7 linked regions of the Homo sapiens genome follow. The protein of the gene in region 2 interacts with the protein of the main gene of each other region in a pairwise test. Each region holds a gene or a part of one and is shown on either strand. Other genes may lie near its edges.

Region 1 (3,500 bases), on a different chromosome or scaffold from region 2:
TCTACTTGTATCTACTTCCTGTATCCCAACTACCTATCCCAGGATCAGGAAATGAGGAAGCTCTTGGTGATCGACTGACCTTGTCACCTGGAAGGTAAAACCTGACTGTCAGATGGGAAAAGTAGGTACAGGGACCTCGGGTCCGAAAGCTCTGGGAAAGGTGGTGGCAGGGAGGAATGCAGAAACAAAGTGGGGGGCGGCTGATCCATGAGCTCGGGCTCCCCATTTAAACGAGCAGTCCTGCTGAGCTGCCTTTACCTCTGTCTTTCCCATTCTGCATCTTCTCTTCTTCTTCCTCTGCACCTTCCTCTGCTGTGAAAACAAGTCCAAGGAGGCCAGTGACCCTTCGGCACAGGACAAGTACAGAAGGAGGGTGAACAAAGCAACTGCTGAGGCTTGGGAGGAAACTCTAGCTAACAGCTCCTGGCTGCAGGCCTCTGAGGGTGCTTCAGCTCACCAGTCTGCACTTGTGCGGCCCACGCCCCAGCACTGCTGAATAGGAGCCCGTAAGACCACAGCCCAAAGGGAGCAGTGCGGTCACATCGCTCACTTTCCTGACCAGGGCTGGGGGCGTGCAGTGTGGGGTTGCGTGCCTCTGTTCTATGCCTGTCTGCCCTCAGGTGGTGATGACCAGGGAGACATCTAATGTCTTGCATTCAGGTTTAAGAAAGTGACCATACAATATATGGTGGGGGAATACCTAGATTAACACGGGGTTCTGTTAAAAAAAAAAAATTCCGTATGTTTTAGCTGATGATAAACTTAAAATGACCGCACAGTGCAAAGTGGCTATGTGGGAAGTGCTAATGCCGTCTAAGGTGCTTTTCCAGGGGACACTCAAGAGGGTCACAGATGCCTTGTGCTCTGCAGGGACAAGATCCCCTGTGATGGAGAGCAGGGTGCTGGGCCCTGGGCATGTACTTTGAATAGGAGCCTTGGAAAATGGCCACATCCTGGTATGGTCAAGCAGGCTGGTAAGAGAAAACCATGTCACGTTTGGAAAGGTTGAAGGAATTGGGTGTAGCAGTCTACAGAGGAGAAAACTAGGAAGGGTTGTCATTTGCCATCCAACCCGTGAAAGGCGAGCCTGCAGAGGAGGGACTGAGCTTATCCTGGGTAGCTTGAGAGGACAGGGATAAATCAGTTACAGAAAGTGAGATTTTGGCTCCCCACTGAGGAAGAAGTTTCCAGTGATTAGAGTTGATCATGAATGAGCTCGCTGGAAATATTCAGAGGACTGTTTTATTGGGTGGCGAGTTGGATTAAATGACTTCTAACATCCTTTACAATTTTTTTCTTTTCTTTTCTTTTTTTTTTTTTGAGATGGAGTTTTGCTCATTGCCCAGGCTGGACTACAGCGGCGCGATCTTGGCTCACTGCAATCTCTGCATCCCAGGTTCAAGCGATTCTCCTGCCTCAGCCTCCCGAGTAGCTGGGATTACAGACATGCACCACCATGCCAGGCTAATTTTGTATTTTTAGTAGAGACGGGGTTTCATCATGTTGGTCAGGCTGGTCTTAAACTCCTGACCTTAGGTGATCCACCTGCCTCAGCCTCCCAAAGTGCTGGGATTACAGGTGTGAGCCACTGTGCCTGTGGCCTCGATCCTTTCCAATTCTAGGATTCGATTATCTGTGAAAAAACTTTATAAAGATGAGGACTACAAGCTATGTATATACAGTATGTATACACTGTATAGAATATATGTAAAGATAATCTGAGTATGTCCTCTCATTGGAACAAAAACCTGTCAAGTCACTGTCAAGGAGACAGTAAAAACATGTTGGTGATGGGTGAAGCTATTCCATTCACTGAGAAATTGGCACCCTCACATGTAAAGGGAGTTTATGTCTGCATGTTAGAGGGATACCGTGCCATGTGTGGCTTTGGTCCACGTCTACCTACAGGCTTCAGTGACTGAGAGGACAGCATCAGGGAAAGGGGCCTCTGGGACTCTGGGTTTGCTATCTTGTCCTGGAGGGGAGTAAGATCTCTGGCTTGATGCTCTGAAGACCCAGGTTCTAGGACCAGCTTTCCCCCTTCAAGCTGCACGACCTTAGGCAGACCACTTTTCTGATAAGCACAGGCTACATCTCTAAAGTAAGGGACTGGACAATGTGCTCTCTAAGGCACCTTCCAAATTACACTACATAATTTTGTTGAAACCATCCTTTCTTACTATGAGACACTGCTGAGGATTCCTATAAGCTTTACATTTTTGTGAAGCTATTTGGTCTCTATGTGCTTTCCACTTAATGGTATTTAATGACCTCTCACCCTAGCACGATGAACGCAGAAGCCACTTATTTTGCATAAACTCTAATAAGTGGCCATGAAGTACAAGTGTAGTTAATTCCCATGGCCCGAAATTCCCTGAGAAATTTCCTCTAAAAGTGGGATTTCTGACATCTGTGGGGAGCTGCATTAGGGAAAGCGCCTTCTAATCACCTGTGAGGTCATCCTGAAGGCTGTCGCCTCTTCTGTTTATGTGTACAGAGCGGGGCCGTGCTTCTGATGGGGGTTGAGAAACAGTGCTAGAATGGAGAGGGTGGCACCATCAAACAAGAGAGGCAGCGTCTGACCTTAACTGACTGGAAAGACGAAGCTGGGCTATACACTCACTTTGGTCTGTATGAAAACAGGCAGACTTGAGAGCAGAGCTGGGGGCTCTGTCCAGTCCCATGACAACCCTAAACATGTGAGCTTTCTCCTACGAAGGGCTGAAAAATACCCAAGGCTTGCCTTCCCTAAGAGTGTTTGAATAAGTGTATGTGTTTGAATCGTCCGTGGAAAAACTGCTTTATCTTTTTATTTAATAATCCTGTTAAGCTACTTCAAGGTATTTAAAAGCACTACATTAGGTGGAAAGAAACAAAAGAGAGCCATCAGTGTGAGTGACCTACAGCGCTTAGGGAGGGAAACCATTAGTTTAACACAAAACATGGAGACCCCACCGCTGTGAAATCGTTAGTGACTCTCTGGCCCCTACGTAACTGGTAGAGTCATGGGGATTCCTGGAGATAGGAGGATACGTGAATGGCCTTTTATTTTCTCTCTCTTTCCTGGGTTTTATGTAAGGTGAAATGCCACGAGGTAAAGGTCTTTGGGAAGTCACTGAATTGGTGAGGTGATGGAGAGACTGAGAAAGAAGTCACAGATGAGCTGAACACAAGGAGCAGAAGAGGCGACAGACTCAGGTCATGAACTTCAGGTGAAATCAGAGCCTGGTCACGGACAAAAGGAGGGAATAGGTTTCAAAAACAAATCAAACAGGAGAGAGCAGAAAGGCAGCAGGGGAAGGTCCAGAGCTTTCCTGGCTGATTCCGCTCCAGACCTCCAGGGAAGTTTCAGAATGAGGTGGTCGGTCAGGCCTAGGGAGAGAGCGGCTGTGGACAAAGTACAGATGGAAGACGAGGTAAGTGAGGAAGGGGCCTGCCTGCACTGAAAGGTCTGAATTTCTCTACATTCAGCTTGCTCCACAAGATGCACTCCTGAGATA
Region 2 (3,500 bases):
CATCACCCCAATTAAATCTACAGATTCAATGCAATCCCAATCATAATCCCAGCTGTCTTTTTTACAAAAATCGATAAAGCTGTATCCTAAAATGTATATGGAAATCCAAAGGACTCAAAATAGTCAAAACAATGTTGAAAAAGAAATACAAAGTCAAATGACTTACAGTCCAGATTTCAAAATGTATTACAAAGATATGATCATCCAGACAGTCTGGTAATGACATAACGATAGCCCAGTGGAAAAATAAATCAATAGAAAAATATTAAGAGTCCAGAAACAAACCCTTACTTTTATGGTCAACTAATTTTCGACAAAATTGCCAAGGCAATAGAATGTAGAAAGGGTTTTTTTCAATTAAAGGTACCGAAACAACTGGGTATCCACATGCAAAAAGGTGAATTTAGGACATCTCACACTTTAAACAAAAATGACCTCAAAATGTAAAACAAAAATGACCTAAATGTAAAAGTTAAAACTATAAAATTCTTCTATGAAAACACAGGAGTAAATCTTCGTGACCTTGGGCTAGACAAAAATCTCTTCAGATACAACAGCAAAAGCATGAGCAATAACAGAAAAACATTGATAAACTGAACTTGATCAAATTAAAGACTCGTGATTTCAAAAGACACTGCTAATGAAGTGAAAAGACAAGCCACAGAATAGAAAAAAATATCTGCAAAGCAGATATCCAATAAGGGACCTGATACAAACAACATCTGCAAATCAATATTAAGACAATCCATTTAAAAATGAGCAAAAGACGTGGAAAGATATTAAACCAAAGACGCTATAGGAATGAGCAATAAGCACATGAAAAGACACTCAGTATCATCATTAAATAGGGAAATGCAAATCAAAATCACAAGGAGCCCATGTGCCTGCAATCCCAGCTAACTGGGAGGCTGAGGCTAGAAGATCACCTGAGCCCAGGAGTTCAAGACCTAGAACATTTTTCGTTGCTATCAGCAATGTATGAAGATTCCAATTTCTTCAAATTCTCAACAACACTGTTATCATTTGTCTTTTTGGTTATGGCCATTTATGTGCATGTGAAGTAGTATCTCATTGTGTTTTTCTTTGTTTTCAGACAGGGTCTCATTATGTTGCCCAGGCTGGTCTTGAACTCCTGAGCTCAAGCAATCCTCCAGCCTCAGCTTCCCAAGGCGCTGGAATTATTGGCCTGAACCACCAGGCCCGGCCGATAATTCTTCATAACAAAAACAGTCACTTTAGGAGGCCGAGGTGGGAGTCTGAGACCAGCCTGGGCAACATAGCGAAACCCCGTCTCTACAAAAAAATACAAAAAAAAAAAAAAAAAAAAAATTAGCTGGGAATGTTGGCATGTGCCTGTAGTCCCAGCTACTTGGGAGGCTGAGGTGGGAGAATTGCTTGAGCCCACAAGGTATAAGGTTACAGTGAGCCAAGATCGCACCACTGCACTCCAGTCCAGGCAACAGACCAAGACCCTGTCTCCAAAAAGAAAAAAAGGAATAATTCTAAAAGACTTATATTGATTTTTTTCCCCAATTAACATTAAACGCCTCCACCTGCCCCGTGGGAAATTGGGTTGGCATGTCACTGAAAGGCAAGTACAATATATTCAGACTTGAGAACCTGAGTCAGCTAAAATCACGGGTATCCAAGAGAACAGCACAGCTAGCTACAAACACAAATAGCCTATCTTGAAGTGACGGGTGGAGGGGTTCAAATAAAAGAAAATTGCTTTCTCAGTTCTTACTATGTATCTTATATGACTTAAGAAAACATCTCACTCCAGCTGATTTCAATTAAGTGCAAAAGGCACCTCAGCAAAGAGCATCTTTAAAAGGAGACTACACAAGCTACATGCTGGCTCCTCCTCTCCTGGCCTAGAAAACCCACGGCTGCTCACTCTACTCTCTACTGGTCACATGACAGGCCCAGTGGACAAACCTAATGCAACTCAACACAAGAACTATGTATGGGTTATTCCTTAGGGCTAGTATATCTGATCTCCCGAATCCATGGCAACAACACTTACTATCTAACCACTAATTTTCACCCCAACCCACCCCCCAATACTGTAAGGATGTCTGTGTGATCACTGTAATCAATGCAGCTTCCTATGCCTGAACTGTAAACCATCGGGCAAAGCTCCCCGGTGGCAGGGACTGGAGGAGGTGATGCCAAACCATGCTGTTCTGGGACACCTGTCCATATGCCAGCCCTAGGTGCTCACTCCTGAAGCATCCTTTAAGAGTCAGGACTATGGACTAAAAGTTCTGCTGCAACAACTCTTGCCAGTGGCTGTAAACAAACAGCCTAGTTCCTTCTCACCCTAGTAGCCACTCCCTATCTAGCCTATTTACAACATCAGACTGTATTTCTCCACCAAACCATCTTTTTTTTTTTTTTTTTTTTTTTTTCTTAGCAGGGTCTCACTCTGTCACCTAGGCTGGAGTGCAGTGGCATGATCTTGGCTCAGTGCAGCCTCAACCTTCCAGGCTCAAACAATCCTTCCACCTCAGCCTCCCAGGTAGCTGGAACTACAGGCACACACTACCACGCCTGGCTAAATTTTGTATTTTTTGGTGGAGACAGGGTTTCACTATGTTGCCAAGGCTTGTCTTGAACTCCTAGGCTCAAGAGATCTGCCCACAATCTCCCTATCTCTATGCTGGACTTCTGGGACCTCAAATGACTTGCAACCATCTGAGAATTCCAGTCCCGATACAAACATTAGTGACAACTCACTCATAAGATCATCCATAGCCAGCTCTGAGGAACAGGTGGGCATAAACCCCAAAGCAATTCTTACTCACCACAAATGTCTTTTTAAAAAAAGAAAAAAAAAAAAAAAAAGGCCAGGTGCAGTAGTAGCTCATGCCTGTAATCTCAGCACTTTGGGAGGCTAAGGCAGAAGAAACACTCGAGTCCGGGAGTTCAAGACCAGCCTGGGCAATACAGTGAGGACCTCATCTCTACAGAAAAATTTTAAAATTAGCCACGTGTGGTGGCACACTCCTACAGTCCCAGCCACTCATAGGAAGCTGAGGTGGGAGGATCACCTGAGCCCAAGAAAGTGAAGGATGCAGTGAGCCAAGATCGTGCCCCTGCATTTCAGCCTGGGTGACAGAGCAAGACCCTTTCTCAAAAAACAAACACCACCACCAAAAACCCTCATCACTAAAAAAAAGACATCACTTCTAAAATCCACAGTGTACTTTTGGCCTTTCAACAGATCAGGAAATTACCACCAAAGAAAAGGCCAGGCGCGGTGGCTCACGCCTGTAATCCTAGCACTTTGGGAGGTCGAGGTGGGCGGACTGCCTGAGCTCAGGAGTTCGAGACCAGCCTGGGCAACATGGTGAAACCCCATCTCTACTAAAAATACAAAAAATTAGCCAGGTATGGTGGCGCCACCTGTAATCCCAGCTACTTCGAAGGCTGAGGCACGAGAATTGCTTGAACCCGGGAGGCAGAGGTTGCAGTGAGCCGAGATCATGCCACTGCAC
Region 3 (3,500 bases), on a different chromosome or scaffold from region 2:
TGTTTCACAGCCAGTGCCTTCCCAATACCAATCAAGGAAAGTAACTAATTGGCAGTCATACAAAAGACACATAATCTTGTGTGTCCTACAGTCATCTGACTCCAAAATAGCTACAACAAATGAAGCTCTCATATGCCAACAGAACACACTCAACATACTGGATAAACTGGGCATTACCTCTGCCATAGCTTCAATTTTTTTTAAATATGGTTTTCTATAAATATTCTGAAATGGTTGGGGGAAAAAAATACAAGATAGTTTCAGAGAAATAAAGAAGGTAAAGAATACTAGCGAAATAGGAACTGGACAATTCCAATTATTATTCACCCAACGGGTTAATAAATCATGCAGTTTTATTGGTCCTAAGGATGCCTAGACTAATTATTGAACTATGAATGGAGACAAGCACACATTGTGAAATAATGTATTTGGTCTTCATCCGTTTCCAACAATGCAACTCCTAAAATCCTGGGACTCTTCCAAGTGAAAAGTGTCTTTCTGCATGTTAATGAGTTGACTGATAGCTGGCAGTCACCAGAAAGACCACGGCAGGATTAGAGGGCTTGGGACTTTCAGCCACAACCCCCAACCTCAGGGGAGGGGAGAAGGGCTGAAGGTCGAGTTGATAAGCAATGGCCAATGATGTAATCAATCTTGCCTATTTAATGAAGCCTCCATAAAAACCCAAAAGGACAGAGTCTGGAGAACTTGTGGGCAGCCAAATACATGGGGGCTTCCGAAAAGGTGAACAAGAACACACCCACTGGCTGGGAGGGTGGCATATCCCAACTTCAATGGGACATAAGCACCTGCACTCAGGACCCTTCCAGGCTTCACCCTGTGTATCTCTTCATGGGGCCGTTGATTTGTATCCTTTAAAATATCCTTTGTAAATGTGGGTGTTTCCCTGAGTTCTGTGAGTCCTCTAGCAGATGAATGGAACCCAAGGAAGGGGCAGTGGAACCCAGCTCGCTGGTCAGAAACACAAGCAAAATAACCTGGGGTTTAGGGTCAGCATCAAAACTGGGGTTCAGTCTTGTGGGACTAAGTCCTCAACCTGTAAGATCTGGAGCTATCTCCAGGTAGACAGTATTAGAGTTAACTGAATTAGAGGACACCCAGCTATCCACTGCAGAATTGATTGCCTGATTGCTGGTGGAGAGGGGAAAAAAAAAAAAAAACCACATATCTGGTCACAGAAGTATTCTGTGTTGATTGTTATGTGAGAAAAACACTTTGCTTTTTATTCCTATATCCACACATACCTTGCTTCTTCCAATTGTTTCTCTCTTGCTTTCCTCTTGGCCTTCTTTCCCTGAGTATTAGCCAAGCGGGCTCTGGCTTCAGAAAGCATCTCAAGTTCATCTGCAAAAATTAAAAGAAGAAAAACTAAGTATTTTCTTAGTTCTTACATACTCTAGAAGCAAGGTATGTAAGAGACACTCTATTGCTCAAAATGAGAAAAAAACATAAAAATACTGATTTTATGGTGTAGCATAATGGAAACAGCTTGAGTTTTGAAGTCAAAGAACCTAGGTTAAAAACCAGGCCCACCACTTGCTAGCTATGTGACCTTAGTCACTTACTTACCCTCCCTAAGCATGGTTTCCCTATAAAATTCGAATAACAATTCCTATTTCACAAGGATTTTGAGAAGGGCTAAGTAAAACGAAATATGTAAAGCATCTCGCAAGCATTCATTAAACAGTGGCTACAATTATTGTATCCTTCATTATTATCAACTAACTGGCACAGCACAAATTGTGAAATAGGGTAAAAACTATTTAATTATGAGAGAACAACTATCATTAGATACTTTTTTTTCCCCTCAGAACAATTTCTCTCATCCAATACATTTTTCGTGGCTCTATAGAATGGAATAATACATGCCACTATTGATGCCTTAGAACAATTCCTATGCAAGGCTGTCCAACTAAATCACATGGGAACTTGTAAAATACTCAGATTCCAAGATCACTGCTCTTCCCGTGCCTCCCACACCACCCCAGATGTACTGACTCAGTATATACAGGAGAAGCCCTGATATTTCTATTTTTAAATGCTCCCCCTGTGATAATGATGCAGCCAGCCTAGCCACAGCCTGCCTTTGGGAACCACTATGTTCAAACTTTACATTTTAGAAACTTAACAAATATTCACTGAGTGCTTCACAACAACCCTGCTAAGGTAAAGCAGGTATTAGTATTCCCCATCTCGCAAGAAAGGGAATCAAAGCTCAGAGAGATTTTATGACTTGTCTAAGGTCAAACAGCTAATAGGTGGCACACACGGGTTGAAAATCCAATTCCTGATTCTGTTAACTGATACATCATACTTTACATATTTATAGGGTACATGTGAGAGTTTGTTACATGCATAGAATGTGTAATGATCAAGTCAGTATATCTGGGGTACCCATCACCTTGAGTATTTATTTCAGACCTCTCTTCCAGCTACTTTGAAATATGTAATACACTGTTGCTAACTATAGTCACCCTATTCTGCTATCAAACATTATAACTTATTTCTTTCCATCTACGTTTGTACCCATTAACCAACCTCTCTTAATCCCGCTCTCCCACCCACACACCATACCCAGCCTCTGGCATCTATCACTCTATTCTAACTCCATGAGATCAACGCTTTTAGCTCCCACATATGAGGAAGAATATGCAGTATTTGTCTCTCTGTGCCTGGCTTATTTCACTGAACATAATGACTTCTACTGCCATCCATGTTGCTGCAAATGACATGATTTCATTGCTTTTTATGACCAAATAGTATTCGTGTGTGTGTGTGTGTGTGTGTGTGTGTATACCATTTTTTTTTTTTTTTTTTTTTTTTTTTTTTGAGACAGGGTCCTGCTCTGTTGCCCAGGCTGGAGTGCAGTGCTTGATCTCAGCTCATGGCAAACCCAGCCTCCCGGGCTCAAGTGATTCTCCCACCTCAGCCTCCCCAGTAGCTGGATCTACAGGCATGCGCCACCACACCTGGCTAATTTTTGTATTTTTTTATAGAGGCAGGGTTTCACCATGTTGGCCAGGCTGATCTTGAACTCCTGGGCTCAAGTGATCTGCCCACCTCAGCCTCCCAACGTGCTGGGATTACAGGCGTGAGCCACCATGCCCAGTCCACATTTTCTTTATCCATTCACCCATTAATGGACACTTAGGTTGATTCCATATACTTTCTATTGTGGAATTCCTGATTCAATGCCTCCCAGAATCACTGTTAAGTCTCCATCACCGTCTCACAGGTTGCCTTCTCACACAGAATAAATAACTTGCCTATAGTCAAATAAGTAATTAATAGGAGGACTGAGGTCCAATATTCTGACTTGATGTCTCTCTCCATGGAATAGGAATGAGAAACAGGATCTTCAAGGGCTCACCTCTAGCCTCTGAAAAATCTACTCAGTAGAATTACACTACTCAGTTTTAAAGACAGGGTCTCGTTATGCTGCCCAGGCTGGCCTCCAACTTCTGGGCTCAAGGGGTTAT
Region 4 (3,500 bases), on a different chromosome or scaffold from region 2:
TTGTAAATTGCCCAGTCTTGGATATGTCTTTATCAGCATGAAAACAGACTAATACAAAACCCTTTTTTAAGCTCTGACATTACATAGGGTAGAGGAATCATTAATGTCTCTGTGTCTTCCCACTTGTTTTTGAAAATAATATAATTTTCTTTCTTTACCTCTCCTCCCTAAAGAATATGTAGAATGGTCTCCAAGAAACCTTGCAAACAGGCTGGATGCAGTGGCTCACACCTGTAATCCCAGCACTTGGGAGGCCAAGGTGAGCAGATCACCTGAGGTCAGGAGCTCAAGACTAGTCTGGCCAACATGGTGAAACCCTGTCTCTACTAAAAATACAAATTAGCTGGGTATGGTGGTGCATGCCTGTAATCCCAGCTACTCGGGAGGCTGAGGCAGGAGAATCACTTGAACCTGGGAAGCAGAGGTTGAAGTGAGCCAAGATCACACCACTGCACTCTAGCCTGGGTGACAGAGTGAGACTCTGTCTCAAAAAAAAAAAGAAAAAACCTCACAAACAATGTCAACTGACTGGGTATATGCTGCTGCACAGGCTATGGTCTTTGGCTATATATAGTATGCATGTTATTGGCCTAACTTAGGCCTCTAGAATTCTGTGCCTTAAGGATCTAGCTGTTGCAAGTAGTTAAGATCCTGAAAGAATAGGTAAAGTGCAGGCAGTGCTGCTAGGTAATACACACTAAAAAGTAACAACTCTGAGGTATGGTGCCCAGCCTCCAAGATGATCCCTGATGATCCTGCCTCCTGGTATTTAGACCCTTGCATAGTTCTCTCCTAGACTGTACTGAGGTTAGTCTACGTGACCAATAGCATCAATAAAAAGTGATGGTATGGCAATCTGAGATTAGGTCATAAAAGATTGTGGTTTCTGTCTTGAAGTGTCTCTGTCTCTCACATATCACATGCCATGTCATGAGAGCACTCAGGCAGCCTATGAAGAGACCCCCACAGAGAGGAATGGAGGCCTTTGACTAAAAGCCACTGAAAAAACAAGCCTGCCACCAACCACATGAGTGAACCTGGAAACAGATTTACTGGCCCCAGTCAAGCAATGAGATGACTGCAAGTTCATGAGAGACTCTGAGCTAGTAACACCAACTATGCTGCTGTAAGCTGAATTTGGTACATAGCAATAATACAGAGAGTTTGGATCTAGAATTAGAAGAGAGGGAGGAGAGGTAACAGAAGAGTAAGTCTGAGCCGTCTTAGTAAAAAGACAAACTTTTATACCTTGGCATCCTACTTAAGTTCATCCTGATGGCATTAAAGCACTCACAAAAAGTTCAATCACATTCACTATACTCTGTTTAATTATGCAATTAAAGAAGAGTCTAATGCAGTTTGAAAGACTCCAGAAAAAAAAAAAGGTTAAATCAAAGAAAGTTTAGATGCTTTAAAATGTAAGCTACATTTACCTGCTTTCTTAAAAATTCCCTATGTGCAATGCTACATTCCCCAATAAACCTAGTAAATGATGCATTTTTCTGGATACGTATATTTGAAATCATACAGATAATGATATCTAGCTTAAAAGAAACCCCCCCTTTTTTTTGCTTAGTTTTTCCTGCCCTATTTATTTAAAAATGTTTAAAGCATGGCACAGTTTACAAGTGAAATACACAGATCTTAAGTGTAAAGTTTGATCATTTTTGACACAAGTATACCTGTGTAATCCACACCACTATCAAAACCAGAACATTTCCAATACCTCAAAAAATCTCTTGTGTATTCCCAAACTTTCTGCCAGAACCTTTCTATCATCATATATTAGTTTTGCCTTCAAGTACATGAAATCAGAAAATATGTATTGTCTGGCTATTTTCACTCAGCATAAGGATTTTCTCATTCACCCATATACGTTCTTGAATATTAGCAGTTCATAGCACTTTATTGTCGTGCAATATTCTTACATGACTATACCAGTTTATTCATTCTCCTGTTGATGGATATTTGCAGTTGTTTCCAGTTTTTTGTTATTATGAATAAAACTGCTATGAGCATTCTTGTACAAGGCTTTCTGTGGATATGTTTTTATTGCTGTTGGTATTATACCCAGGAGTGGGCCACAGGAACGATGCATGTTTAAGAAATTGCCGAACACTTTTCCAAAGTGGTTGTGCCATATTACATTCCCACCAACAGTGACTGGGTGTTCCAGTTGTTCCACATCCTCATTTCACATTTGACACAGTTGGTCTTTCTCACTTTAGCCATTTTAATGGGTGAATTGTAGTATCTCATTGTGGTTGGAAAAATACTTTAAATCAAACCAAAATACAGAATGAAAATCTTACCTTATCAGCTCATCAGGGTTAAAGCAGCTTATATCAGGGAGCCAAGCAGACACGTCATGGCTATGTGGAAGGCACTCTTTTAAAGGGTTCTTTTCATCTGCAGACGAAAGACTCTTTGAGGTGCTCAATGTCACAGCCAGTTGCTTTAAAATAGAAGCTGTCTGGTGATAAATTTCATCAGCATGTTGTGTTGCCACATGTCTATGGATGCTGGTTTGGTCTGTGAATAGCTGCCGACAGCATTTCCACAATTTTTCTTTACATTCAAAACTCCTTTTTGTTGGAACTTCTTTGGTTTTGACAAAAAGGGCAAAGGCCTGCAATTAGATTTCAAATGCTAACACTGTTAAATAACCTTAGGTTTATGGCTAATAGAAGTCTCACTAAGATTCTTTAGATTATCTTTCCACAGGGGCTTCTAGTTTTATGTTCCATTATGTTATACAATTCTCTGAGAAGTAACACTTCTCTTATTAGTAAGCTTTAGAAGAGACTATTAGAGAAATTAAAACTAGGCTTTATATTGAGGAGGTTAAATAACTCTCAGCATCATAATTTTATTCTCAGGATATAAGACTAAGTCACACTGGAAAATACATAATACAGTTTGGCCTAAAATATCACAAATAACACTATTAGTTATTTTCGAAAGGAATATGGAAAGTAAATTATGAAGTATGCTTACCATGGAATATTAAGCAGCCAGTTTTAAGTTATATGGAAAAATATTTTATGATATAATATTAAGTGAAAAAAATTGGATAAAATTGCTTATGCAATGTAATCTTAACCACATTAAAAAGTACATTGAAAAAGACCAGGAAGAAACGTACCAAAATATCTTCCTTCTTGGAAAATAATATTACTGTTTTTATAAAAATTACTTATGCTTATTGTAAAACAATCAAACAGAAAATTCTCTTAACCAGTTACCAACTGATGAACATTTAGATTGTTTCTAATATTTGCAATTAAAAGCCATGTTGAATGAGCATTCCATGCATCTATCTTTCTATATCTTTAACCACCTACTTAGAATATCTAAAATAAAAATTGAGGGGTCAAAGAACATGAAATTTTAATCTGTAATAGTGACTTCCAGGAAAAATGTACCAATTTATACTCTAACCAGAAAAGCATGTGGGTGCCATTTTATCCATAGCCTCACTGAGTTCTATCAGTATTTTT
Region 5 (3,455 bases), on a different chromosome or scaffold from region 2:
GGGTAGAGAAAATAAGGGGAGGTTTGTAGAAAAACATAACTACACAAATTTTATATACAGGTTTGACAGTGAAGGGGAGGACAGAGAAACCTGGAGGGAAAGAGAGGGTGGAAAGAATGTGTTTTTCAAGACACGAGACTTGAACAAGTTTAATTGCTGTTGGAAAGGAATAGGCAGAGAGAGAGAAAGAGAAGGAGAGGGAGAGAGATTAAACATCCAAGATAAGAAAGTGGGAAAAATGAATAATTGATAGGTCAGGGTCACCAAGAAGGCGGGAGGTGATGGGAGTCTTGGCCCAGGGACCGGTCACTTTCACCTAGAGAGAATGGTGAAGCTGCAGGTAAGTTTCGCGGTAGCAGTGAGAGTGTTGCTAACTGGTGACAGCATCTGCTTCCTTGATAATCTGGATGGTGAGACCACCTGATGAGAGAGAGTGGGGGCGATGGTGCTGCTGAAGATTTCAGGACAGTTTTGAAGGTTTGAACAGCTGCTGGGTGAATGGAGAGAGGTGACTAAGGAAGCAGGCAGACTGGCGGGTAGCCTGGGAGAGGCCGGAAACCACGCCATCATGGGGCACCCATTTCACAGACCGATGTGTTTCTGTGGCATCCTGAACACATGTTCAGAAAATGTGGGCAGGTAGATGGATGAAAGGTGGGGAGATTTTGTGGGAGTCTGTGACAGAATGGGAATAGTGAGGGGAGTTGGAGGTATTGGTGAAGAAATGGTTGAAGTGATAGTCTTTGGACTCAAATTGACTCTGAAAGGCAGTGTGGATGGGAGGGGCTGACAGGGAGAAGCTGGGGATTGGGAGTGTTGATGTTGAAGAGCAGATGTGATGGGGAATTGAGTGCCGGAGCCCATGGCCTCAGAATGCCTGGCTTAAATAGAATCTTTCAAAGATGGGACATTTGCAGGTGGAGAAGGCCCAGTGGAGGGGCTGTGGGACTGGGTGACAGAGGGGAGTGGAGGGGTGAGCTGGGCTGGCCCAGGAGGGCGCTTCCTGGCTGCCCTGAGATGTCTCGGCACTGGTTGGGGCTTCAGGACCAATTTCATTATGATCTGACATTGATTTAGATGGCAAGGGGCGATTACTCAGGCTTCTCTCTGTGTTCACAGTTGCTAGAGAATGAAATACAAGCCCCAGAGTCAAAGTTATTGATTTCTTTCTCCAGATTGGATAATCTAATATCAACCCTGAACCATTTCTCAGTATGGAAATATCCATGCCAGTTTCCATTTCTAGAAGAAAAAGATGTCATTGGGTCAATTAAAAAGGTACATTATGATACAAGGGTACAGTGTCAAATGATTCTCCAAGAGGCAATGATGGCAGTTGGCCCTTTGAAGGACTAAGGGAGTTTGTTCTCCAGGGGAAGGGAAACCCCAGCTGACATTTCGGAGATAGTATTTTTTCCTCCTGATTTTGAAAGGATAAGCAAATAGTCTTCATTGGAAAGTGAGAATTTGGGGGTGATTTGAGGTTGGGATAGGGAGAAGGCTTTACTTTTTATTTTATACATTTGTACAATGAAATTATTTTTATGGTGATAAATTACTACTTTTATAGTAAGACTTTTTTAAAAAAACAAACAGATGAAAAGGAAAGAAAGGAAAGGAAGGGCAGGAGGAAGGAAGGAGAGAAGGAAGAAAGGAGGGGAGGGAGGGCGGAGCTGTGGAATTAGAGCAAAGGGAAATGTAGAGAGAGATAGCAAAATGAAATTAGGCAAAGAATTTTTCAGAAATATGGAGGAGGAGGTCGGGTGTATGTGATAAGAAACAGACTCACAACGACCGCAAGTTAACTGACTACTCGAAGCCTAGCTTTTCTGGGTCCATGGCAGTAGTTCCGAAACTTCGCTGCACATTAGAATTACTGGGGGAGATTTATCAGCTCTGACAGCCAGGTGTACTCTGACCTGATGAAATCAGGAGGTCATGGGCTGGGAGCAGGCATCATTGTTTTTTAATGATCCCAGGATGTTCCCTTGTGCAGCAAAGTTTGGGAACAGAAATTTCTCCTATGGGTTTGCATAAGGACAGGTCCTTCGGTGCAGTGGGCATCCCTTCAACAGTGTCGCCCCTAGAGAGAGTATCTGATGCTGGTGGAAGCTCTCTTCAACACACTCTGGGGCACTGCACTCAGCTGTGGTTCAGTGCAAGCACATCTGCGATAGGGGTTTCAGGTGTGTGTGGCTCTAATGAACTGGCTTGGCTCAGGGGTAGAATTTAGATATTCTAGAATAGTGGTTTTCAAGCTGGTTCTGTGAAGCCCTGGGGAACTAGAGAGGGGGTCCCGTAGGCAGAGGCTACCCTCTGTACGTCAACCAGGGCTGCGCTAATTAGATTGCTTCATATTTTGGGCTTCCAGGTAAGAAATTGTTTGGAAAAAAACTTCTTAAGATAGAGAGATGGCTCACTCCTGTCATCCAGCATTTTGGGAGGCCAAGGTGGATGGATCACCTTAGGTTGGGAGTTTGAGACCAGCCTGACCAATATGGAGAAACCTCATCTCTACTAAAAATACAAAATTAGCTGGGCGTGGTGGTGCATGCCTGTAACCCTAGCTACTAGGGAGGCTGAGGCAGGAGAATCACTTGAACCTGGCAGGTGGAGGTTGCAGTGAGCTGAGATTGCGCCATTGCACTCCAGATTGGGCAACAAGAGCAAAACTCCATCTCAAAAAAAAAAAAAAAAAAAAAGACAGGGAATCATTGATCTAGAATAGGGCTTGGTCAACTGTGGCCTGAGAACTAAAAATAGTTTTCTATTTTTATATGGTTGGAAAAAAATTCATGACACATAAAAAATATGAGATTCAAATTTCAGTGTTCATACATAGAGTTTTACTGAACACAGCCATTCATTTATATATTGTCTATGGCTGCTCTGCAGCAGAGTTGGATAGTTGGGATAAAGACCATATGGCCGGCAAACCCTCAGATATTTACTGTCTGGCTCCTTGCCGAAAATATTTGCCAACTTCTATTCTAAAAGAATCAGTGGAAGTCCTTGTTTTTTTGTGTGTTTGTTTTTGCAGCTTGGTAATATGCACCTCACCATTTCTATCAGAAAATTGAGATGTACTCTGCGTCATCTATACAAACAAATATGCTCTGTGTGAGTGTGTGTGTGTGTGTATGAGAGAGAGAATTTACTGATTTCTAGACCTGTTTTCTCACTGTCCTCATTTCTGCCTTCTTGCCTTGTAAGATAAATATGTATCATTATTTTTTCTCCCTTGAAATAGACCTTATTTTTTACAGCAGTGGTAGGTTCACAGCAGAATTAAGCAGAAAGAACAGAGAGTTCCCATATACAACCTTCCCCCCGAAAAGAGCCTCCTTTCCTGTCAACATCCTTTATCAGAGTGGTACATGTGTTACAACTGATCAACCTACAACGACACATCACCATCACCCAAAGCCCATAGGGTACATTAGGGTTCATTCTTG
Region 6 (3,500 bases), on a different chromosome or scaffold from region 2:
AAAGACAGCATATTGTTGTCATAATCCAGGAGGACACCCAGACGCTTCAGGTGTGGGGGCACATCCACCAGCATTTCCTTGTTGTTGTGTCTCACCACGAAGTTACTATTGCAGCGAGAGAAGACCCATGAGGAGGCATTCTTGCCAATCCATTCATTCTTTGGAGCTGATTTGTAGGCAATGCCAATTGCATACCTGTGAGACAGTGGAAAGGAGAGAGAAATAAACATTTATGAATTATCTGAGTTGTGTAAGACACCATATATGATATATAACAAATAGGATATATGTTTATTCCTTAAATAGTTTACACTTAGATGCATAATGCTGATATCACTAGAGCTTTAAAAAGTTAGCAATTAGAGCAATGTGGCAGTTTCCATCTCCTAGCCCAGTATATTTTCCATTATTTTATTAAAAAGCTGGCAAATTTTTCTAGGAGTGGTTTTCATCACATACCTTTTAACCTTGACTTATTGGTATTATGGTTGTGCTATAGAATTGAATCTCCTAGGAACCTAATGACAGAGGACAGAAAAGAAAAGGAAAATGGGATCCACTCACCATGTTGAGGAACCCATGACCACCTCCCAATAGTGGCAGCCACTGTCAATGAATATATTTCCTGCTGCCCCATAGCACCCTGTGCCACTAAACCTCTCTGGGGTGTGGCTCTTCTTTAGAGAGCTTTCATCCTTCTCCATCTGCAATCCATCATTGGAGATCTTCAACTTCTTGTGAGTCATTTTGGGATCCAATTTAAAGGGTTGGCCTGAAAAATAAGTAGAAAAAAAAAAAAGAAAAAGCACTATGAAGTATCTTAAAATTCTACCTTTTCCACCAGCATCATCACTGGCAGGGTATGCTCGATAACATGATCACTCTTGGTCCAGTGCAAGTTGGCTGCTGTTTAAATTTTATTAAGAAAACAGGCCAGAAACCAGAGTTTTCAATAAAATAAGAATAAAGGCCAATCTCCCATAAAACGACCTTCATAACGGCGTTTATTTTCCCACTGTGGGAAAAAATGTGGATCTCTCCTAAAAGCAATTTGAGGGAAGTCATATTCCAAGCAAAGAGGAGCTAATAAGCTGTCCCCCACATCATATATTATCAAAGTAAAAGGGAGTGCTCAAAGTTTCATGTTCTCAAATATGTTTTGTACTTTGCTTAATTTCAGTGGGTTGTTTGGGATTTGGGTAGATTTTAACAGAAAGAGTGTTATGATGTCTGAGGTGAGGGGAATTGATGTAATTGCTGCTTGATGGCAGAACCGGAAAACCCTGAGAACTCAGCAACTGAACAATTATTTTTGCCCTCTTACAATTGGGATGTAAATAACATATAATTAGGCAATTTTGTTAGAGTGACTGTTGCATCATCAATGATCAGAGAAAACATTTATTGTGTAGGATCATTCACAACAGATAATTCTTTATAACCATATGACAAAGGCATTGTTACTGAGGGACCAGTTGCTGGGTGTGGCAAGAGATTTTTATACAGAATGCTTCTGTGACAGACACTGTTGGCTAACACATTACCCTTTCCCAACTTTTTCTCTCTTACTCACTTTCACTATAGAGGCCGGAAAAGCTAAATACTCAATCTTCCAGCCTCCCTTACTGCTAGGGGCGGCTAAGAACATGGAAGCAGATGGAAGCAGAAGTCAGACAGAGCAGGGGAAAGTTCTAGGAAAGTTTTGGATTTCCAGATAAAAGGGATAACCATTATGTGTACCAACTCTTTCCTCTTTCCTATCTTGAGAGGTAATATGACATCTGAAAGTTGCAGTGGCCATCTTGCAGCCATGTGGCAAGAAGCCAATGCACACAGGGAGAAGGAGCCTGCATCTTTTATGACATCGCAGAGCAGCTGCATTAGCCCTGAACTGCCTACCTTCAAACTTCTTCCTATGTGTATGTGTGAGAGATAAAATATATACTATTCATTTAAACAATTAACAAACGCTATTTGTTAAGCTATGTTAGTTGCACTTTTTGTTATTTGCTGTCAAAAGCATTCCTAACAGATATGGCTTCTCTGTAGTAAGATTTTACTAGATTATCACAAATAATGCTCTTTTATGCAATTGTCCCCCAAATATAAGGGGTGGAGTACAGAGAAAACTCTTCACTAACATCCTCCCAAGCTAACAGTCTTTTTGTGCATATCTCTGAGTCCACAAATCTCCCATGGGCACCAACAAACTCCTTGCCCAAAGTACAAACTACAACAGTATAGCTCCTCTACCCAGTACCACTGCTCCCCATGCACTGCTGTGAGTGCCTGCTCAGGCTGTGTACTCCCCTGGCATGGAGAAGAAAATTGATCTTTCCTTTTGAAATCACCACAACGTACTGTTTGTTTTTAGTCGGGTAGGTTCACTGTTCCGGCTGCCGGCTTGGTTTATGGCTTTAACGATGAAGATGTAGCGAGTCCCGCTCTGGAGTCCATGCACTGTGTAATGGTTCTGTTTAATGTTGGGAACAATCATCCAGCTGTCTACTGAATTATACAGGCCTGTAACATGGGGAAAGACAAGGACATTAACCAGCAGGTAAGAGAGACAGAATGAAAAACACACTGAAAATTCATCATAAGCCACCCCCTCAAAAGTGAATTCATTTTGTTTTCTTTTGAGTCTTAGAAGATGTAATGAGATGAACCAGGGCTTATGATTCCACTATTTCATTACTCCCATAGAACTAGGCTTAGGCCAGGCTCCTTGCTTGTGGCAATTGAATGGAACTACTAGCATAAGTTAGGTTATTTCAATTTCTTTCCCAGATAACACAGGAATGGCTACTATACAGAGTCACGGAATCATCACTCTTATGGAGTCTCTGGATATTTACTCCAAACGTCCACTCCTCTGAGAGCTGAGTTTGGTCTTGTATGGATGGAGCAATCCTGTGCAGAGCAGGGAAACATGGAAACTCAGCCAAAGGGACACATAGATACTGTATTTCCCTTATTTTACAAATGGGAAACTAGGATTGAGAGAAGAAAAGTGACCTGCCCAAGGCCACAGATAGTCAGTGATGGTGCTGAGAATAGAACCCTGGTATTTTTAAAATGGTAGCCCAGTGTTCTCTCTACTACATCACAGTTCATGGGGTGAACAACAATGTTCTTTTGTCTCTGCAAGGTAGTGAGGCTCTCAGGGCTTACAATTCCACTCTCCTACTCCATCCTTACCCTTACTTCCCAAACTAGCCGGTCTCCACAGTACCGTAGGGAAGCCAAAGAGATGACATGATAACCAAAGCAAGATATCATCTCCCCACTATTACACAACACATTCTGTTGTGTGATTCCCATGTTCATTTTGGGTTGAGTGGTCCAGGAGCACATTGTTATCTGGAATCTTCCTCCCTTCCAAGTAGGGAAAGGGATCAGAGAACTAGGCTTCTGCTTTTGATATATTTTAGACTGCAAATATTAACTTAAACAGGGGAAATGTAAATAATTAAAACATGTATTTGGCAAGCTTTCGG
Region 7 (3,500 bases), on a different chromosome or scaffold from region 2:
TTCCACTAAGTCTCAGAAGCTAAGGTCTTTTTGCCTCTAGTTCAAGTTCAATCTCTCCACCTGTGCTGCTAATCCTATCATATACCATCTCATCTAAAACCATGCTACTCAAACCATGGTTTCTGATATGGTTTGGCCATATCCCCACCCAAATCTCATCTTGTAGCTCCCATAATTCCCACGTGTTGTAGGAGGGACCCAGTAAGAGATAATTGAATCATGGGGGTAGGTCTTTCCCGTGCTGTTCTCATGATAGTGCAGAAGTCTCACAAGATCTGATAGTTTTAAAAATGGGAGTTTCCCTGCACAAGTTCTCTTTGCCTGCTGCCATCCACGTAAGATGTGACTTGTTCCTCCTTGCCTTCCACCATGATTGTGAGGCCTCCCCAGCCATGTGAAACTGTAAGTCCATTAAGCCTCTTATAAATTGCCTAGTCTCAGGTATGTCTTTATTTGCAGTGTGAAAACAGACTAATACAGTCCCCATGCAGCAGCACCAGCAGTGCCTACGGGCTTGTTAGAAACATATAATTTCAGCTCCATTCCAAACCTACTGAAACAGAGTGAATATTTTAGCAGATCCCCAAATGATCTGTATGCACACTAAATTTCAAGAACCAAAGCTCTAGAGCTTTGCCTTTGAGCAGCAATCTCTCCCTTAAAGAGAACCACCATCAACCATGATCTGAAGAAGGGGTCAGCAAACTTTTCCTGTAAAGGACCAGACTGTAAATATTTTAGCCACTGTAGTGTGAAAGGAGCCTTAGACAACCTGTAAACAAATGGGCATGCCTGTGTTCCAATAAAACTGTATTTACAGGCCAGGTGCGGTGGCCCACTCCTGTAATCCCAGCACTTTGGGAGGCCAAGGTGGGCAGATCACCTGAGGTCAGAAGTTCAAGACCAGCCTGGCCAACATGGTGAAATCCCGTCTCTACTAAAAATACAAGAATCAGCCAGGCATGGTGGTGCATGCCTGTAATCCCAGCTACTTGGGAGGCCGAGGCACAAGAATTGCTTGAACTTGGGAAGTGGAGGTTACAGTGAGCTGAGATTGCACCACTGCACTCCAGCCTGAATGACAGAGTAAGACTCCATCTCAAAACAAACAAACAAACAAAAAACTGTATTTACAAAAACAGGTAGTGAGCAGGATTTGGCCTACAGACCACAGTTTGCTGATCCCTGATGAAGGTACAAACCACTGGGCCGATTTAGCACCCTGAGCAATTGTTTACCGTCACACCCAAAGACTTGTACAGTGTAGTTAAAAAGGGACTGTACAAAGAATCAGAACACCTGTGTTCTAGCCCTGGCCTGACCACTCACTATAGCTATATAACCCTGGACAATTGCTAAGCCTTCCTGAATCACCATTTCCTCACTATTTGGAAGAAGATGGGACTATCTGTCCTTGCCTTCCTCATAGATTTGTTTTAAGGACAAAATGAGGAAATGTATGTGCCAATGTTTTTGAAACTTAAAGTGAAATTGTTCAGTTATTTTGTGACTGGTTTCTTAATGACTCAGGATAAAGTGAGAATCATCAAGAAGTCAACTATTCTTCTCTGATAAATGGAAGGTAAATTCAGTTTTTGTGCAGGATCAGTCACATGCTCACATGCCACTTTAAAAACATGTCAAATTTATATTTCAGTTAATTCTGGACAGGCACCATTTTCATTAAGATATTCACTTCAAGCAAGAAAAAACAACTCCCAAATCAGCATATATTAAACAATAAAGCAGACTGTTCACTGGGATTTTTGGAATTAAAAAGAAAAAAGCTTGGCAATCCTTGGAAAAGAGCATTTCCAATTGCATTATAATTGTGTTCTTCTTAGTATATTCCCAAGATACTTGCCATCAGCAAGGCACAGGTTTTTAATGTTTTTTTTCCCAGTTTCTCTGATACAACATCTGTTATAATATCACCTAAATGACTAGTATACAGCTTAATTTACTAGTGCACAGATGATTCTATATTCAGATGCATAAAATTTATGCTCCAAAATTTCTCAAGTCCAAGGATTGCATGGCTTTGCAACATTTTAATCATTTGTAAACCCTTCTCCACAGCACACACAGTAGAGACGTGTTTAATACCATCAACTGCCTGGTCCTTGGGGCCTAAAAAGAACCTGCAGTCTTTTTCTTCTTTAGAGCCTGATAAAATAAAATTTAAAATGAGATGCTAAATATGCTATTATGTCATGCCAGCTGTGTTGATGGATACTGAGCTACAGTTAGTAATTCCAAGGCCTTCCTAGGATTATTTGTTCTTCATTTTACAAGTTGAGATAGAGCTGAAATTGATTCAAATGAAGAATCACATTACCTGCCCTGATGTACACCTGATGAACCTGCTGCTGTTGCTTCTTTTTAATTCGAGAGTACTGCCGCTTCAGTGCATTGATATCTGTGGTCATGCGTTCCATCATCATACTGTTAAAAGCTGCATGGTATTCACTTCGACAGGAATTGATTGCTCCTGGACTCAGCTCTGCAATGTTATTAGATCTCAGACTCTGCTCCTCATTTGGCTCTGCGCTCGAAGGATGAGACATAAGGAGATGGTCGGTGGAGGGGAACAGGAGTAAATGGAAATTGATAACACTACAACTCAGTGCGGTATCTTAACCTCCATGAAATTCTAAACCACAGAAAAAAACGCATACTAGAGTTTGTCTAGTGCTTATTTTGATGTGCCCCTGAAAATATTTCTGCATTTTCTTATTAACCTAACTGTGGGTCTGACATGAGCTATATGGGTTCAGAGTTTGATTTTGTTACCAGTTTGTTAGCTATATAGACATAACATCAACTGCTTCCAGATGAAAATCACTGCCATTGTCTAAGATTTCCTTAGAAAGATATAACTCCTAATTTCTAAAATCACTGTACAGATTTCCACACAACGGCATGAGGATTTATACAGAATTGGTTTGTAGAGTTTAGACAGTCATTAAAAGTGCATTCTTCTTACATTAAAGGTAGTAACACAATTTATAAAATTATCAAGACTTCAGACCACTGTATCACTAGAATGAATGCTTTGTTCATTTAACAAACATTTCCTGTCCACTCTGTTGTTATATCGGATGTGGTGTCTGCTCCTGTGATAGCTACAACTAGCAGATTTGTCTCTTAAATAAAATTGAGATGACCTCCAAAAAAGAGAAACAATACTAGGTGGGAGTAACCCACAGACTACACAGGCCAAAGCGGGAGACAGCAAGCTTCTCCAGCACAATTTGTAAAACTGACATGGGAGCCAGAGTCAAAAAAAGACTGAGAGACTCCAACTATCCTAACATCTGCTGAGAGTGTTATTCAGACAAAGGCTAAACATCTCAGAAATTCATTTTTTTACTGTAATCATTTCTGTAAGGAGAAGAAAATTAAAAGAGAAACTGCTAATCAGAGCAAAATCAACAAGAAAGACTAATGATGAAATTTAGGAGAAAGTGATCATGTCATCCTAGAGCACAAAAATGCAC

The links.
Region 1: the proteins of ZRANB1 (region 2) and DTNB interact in binary tests that used the Homo sapiens proteins (3 or more experiments, as listed by UniProt).
Region 3: the proteins of ZRANB1 (region 2) and CDC5L interact in binary tests that used the Homo sapiens proteins (3 or more experiments, as listed by UniProt).
Region 4: the proteins of ZRANB1 (region 2) and TSTD2 interact in binary tests that used the Homo sapiens proteins (3 or more experiments, as listed by UniProt).
Region 5: the proteins of ZRANB1 (region 2) and FAM124B interact in binary tests that used the Homo sapiens proteins (3 or more experiments, as listed by UniProt).
Region 6: the proteins of ZRANB1 (region 2) and MID2 interact in binary tests that used the Homo sapiens proteins (3 or more experiments, as listed by UniProt).
Region 7: the proteins of ZRANB1 (region 2) and TBC1D30 interact in binary tests that used the Homo sapiens proteins (3 or more experiments, as listed by UniProt).

Annotation. Positions count from the first base shown.
Region 1 is NC_000002.12:25,383,578-25,387,077, forward strand, and holds part of DTNB (dystrobrevin beta), read right to left. Parts: exon of another isoform or gene 2,785-3,500; intron 2,536-2,784; coding exon of another isoform or gene 2,486-2,535; exon of another isoform or gene 2,450-2,485; intron 1,634-2,449; exon of another isoform or gene 1,489-1,633; intron 313-1,488; coding exon 259-312; intron 1-258.
Region 2 is NC_000010.11:124,976,623-124,980,122, reverse strand, and holds part of ZRANB1 (ubiquitin thioesterase ZRANB1), read right to left. Parts: intron 1-3,500. UniProt on the Homo sapiens protein: Ubiquitin thioesterase, which specifically hydrolyzes 'Lys-29'-linked and 'Lys-33'-linked diubiquitin. Also cleaves 'Lys-63'-linked chains, but with 40-fold less efficiency compared to 'Lys-29'-linked ones.
Region 3 is NC_000006.12:44,394,206-44,397,705, reverse strand, and holds part of CDC5L (cell division cycle 5-like protein), read right to left. Parts: intron 1,366-3,500; coding exon 1,266-1,365; intron 1-1,265.
Region 4 is NC_000009.12:97,623,369-97,626,868, forward strand, and holds part of TSTD2 (thiosulfate sulfurtransferase/rhodanese-like domain-containing protein 2), read right to left. Parts: intron 2,630-3,500; coding exon 2,313-2,629; intron 1-2,312.
Region 5 is NC_000002.12:224,381,653-224,385,107, reverse strand, and holds part of FAM124B (protein FAM124B), read left to right. Parts: intron 1-3,455.
Region 6 is NC_000023.11:107,923,366-107,926,865, reverse strand, and holds part of MID2 (probable E3 ubiquitin-protein ligase MID2), read right to left. Parts: intron 2,524-3,500; coding exon 2,362-2,523; intron 773-2,361; coding exon 565-772; intron 196-564; coding exon 1-195. UniProt on the Homo sapiens protein: E3 ubiquitin ligase that plays a role in microtubule stabilization. Mediates the 'Lys-48'-linked polyubiquitination of LRRK2 to drive its localization to microtubules and its proteasomal degradation in neurons.
Region 7 is NC_000012.12:64,869,647-64,873,146, reverse strand, and holds part of TBC1D30 (TBC1 domain family member 30), read right to left. Parts: intron 2,546-3,500; coding exon 2,339-2,545; intron 2,167-2,338; coding exon of another isoform or gene 2,107-2,166; intron 1-2,106. UniProt on the Homo sapiens protein: May act as a GTPase-activating protein for Rab family protein(s).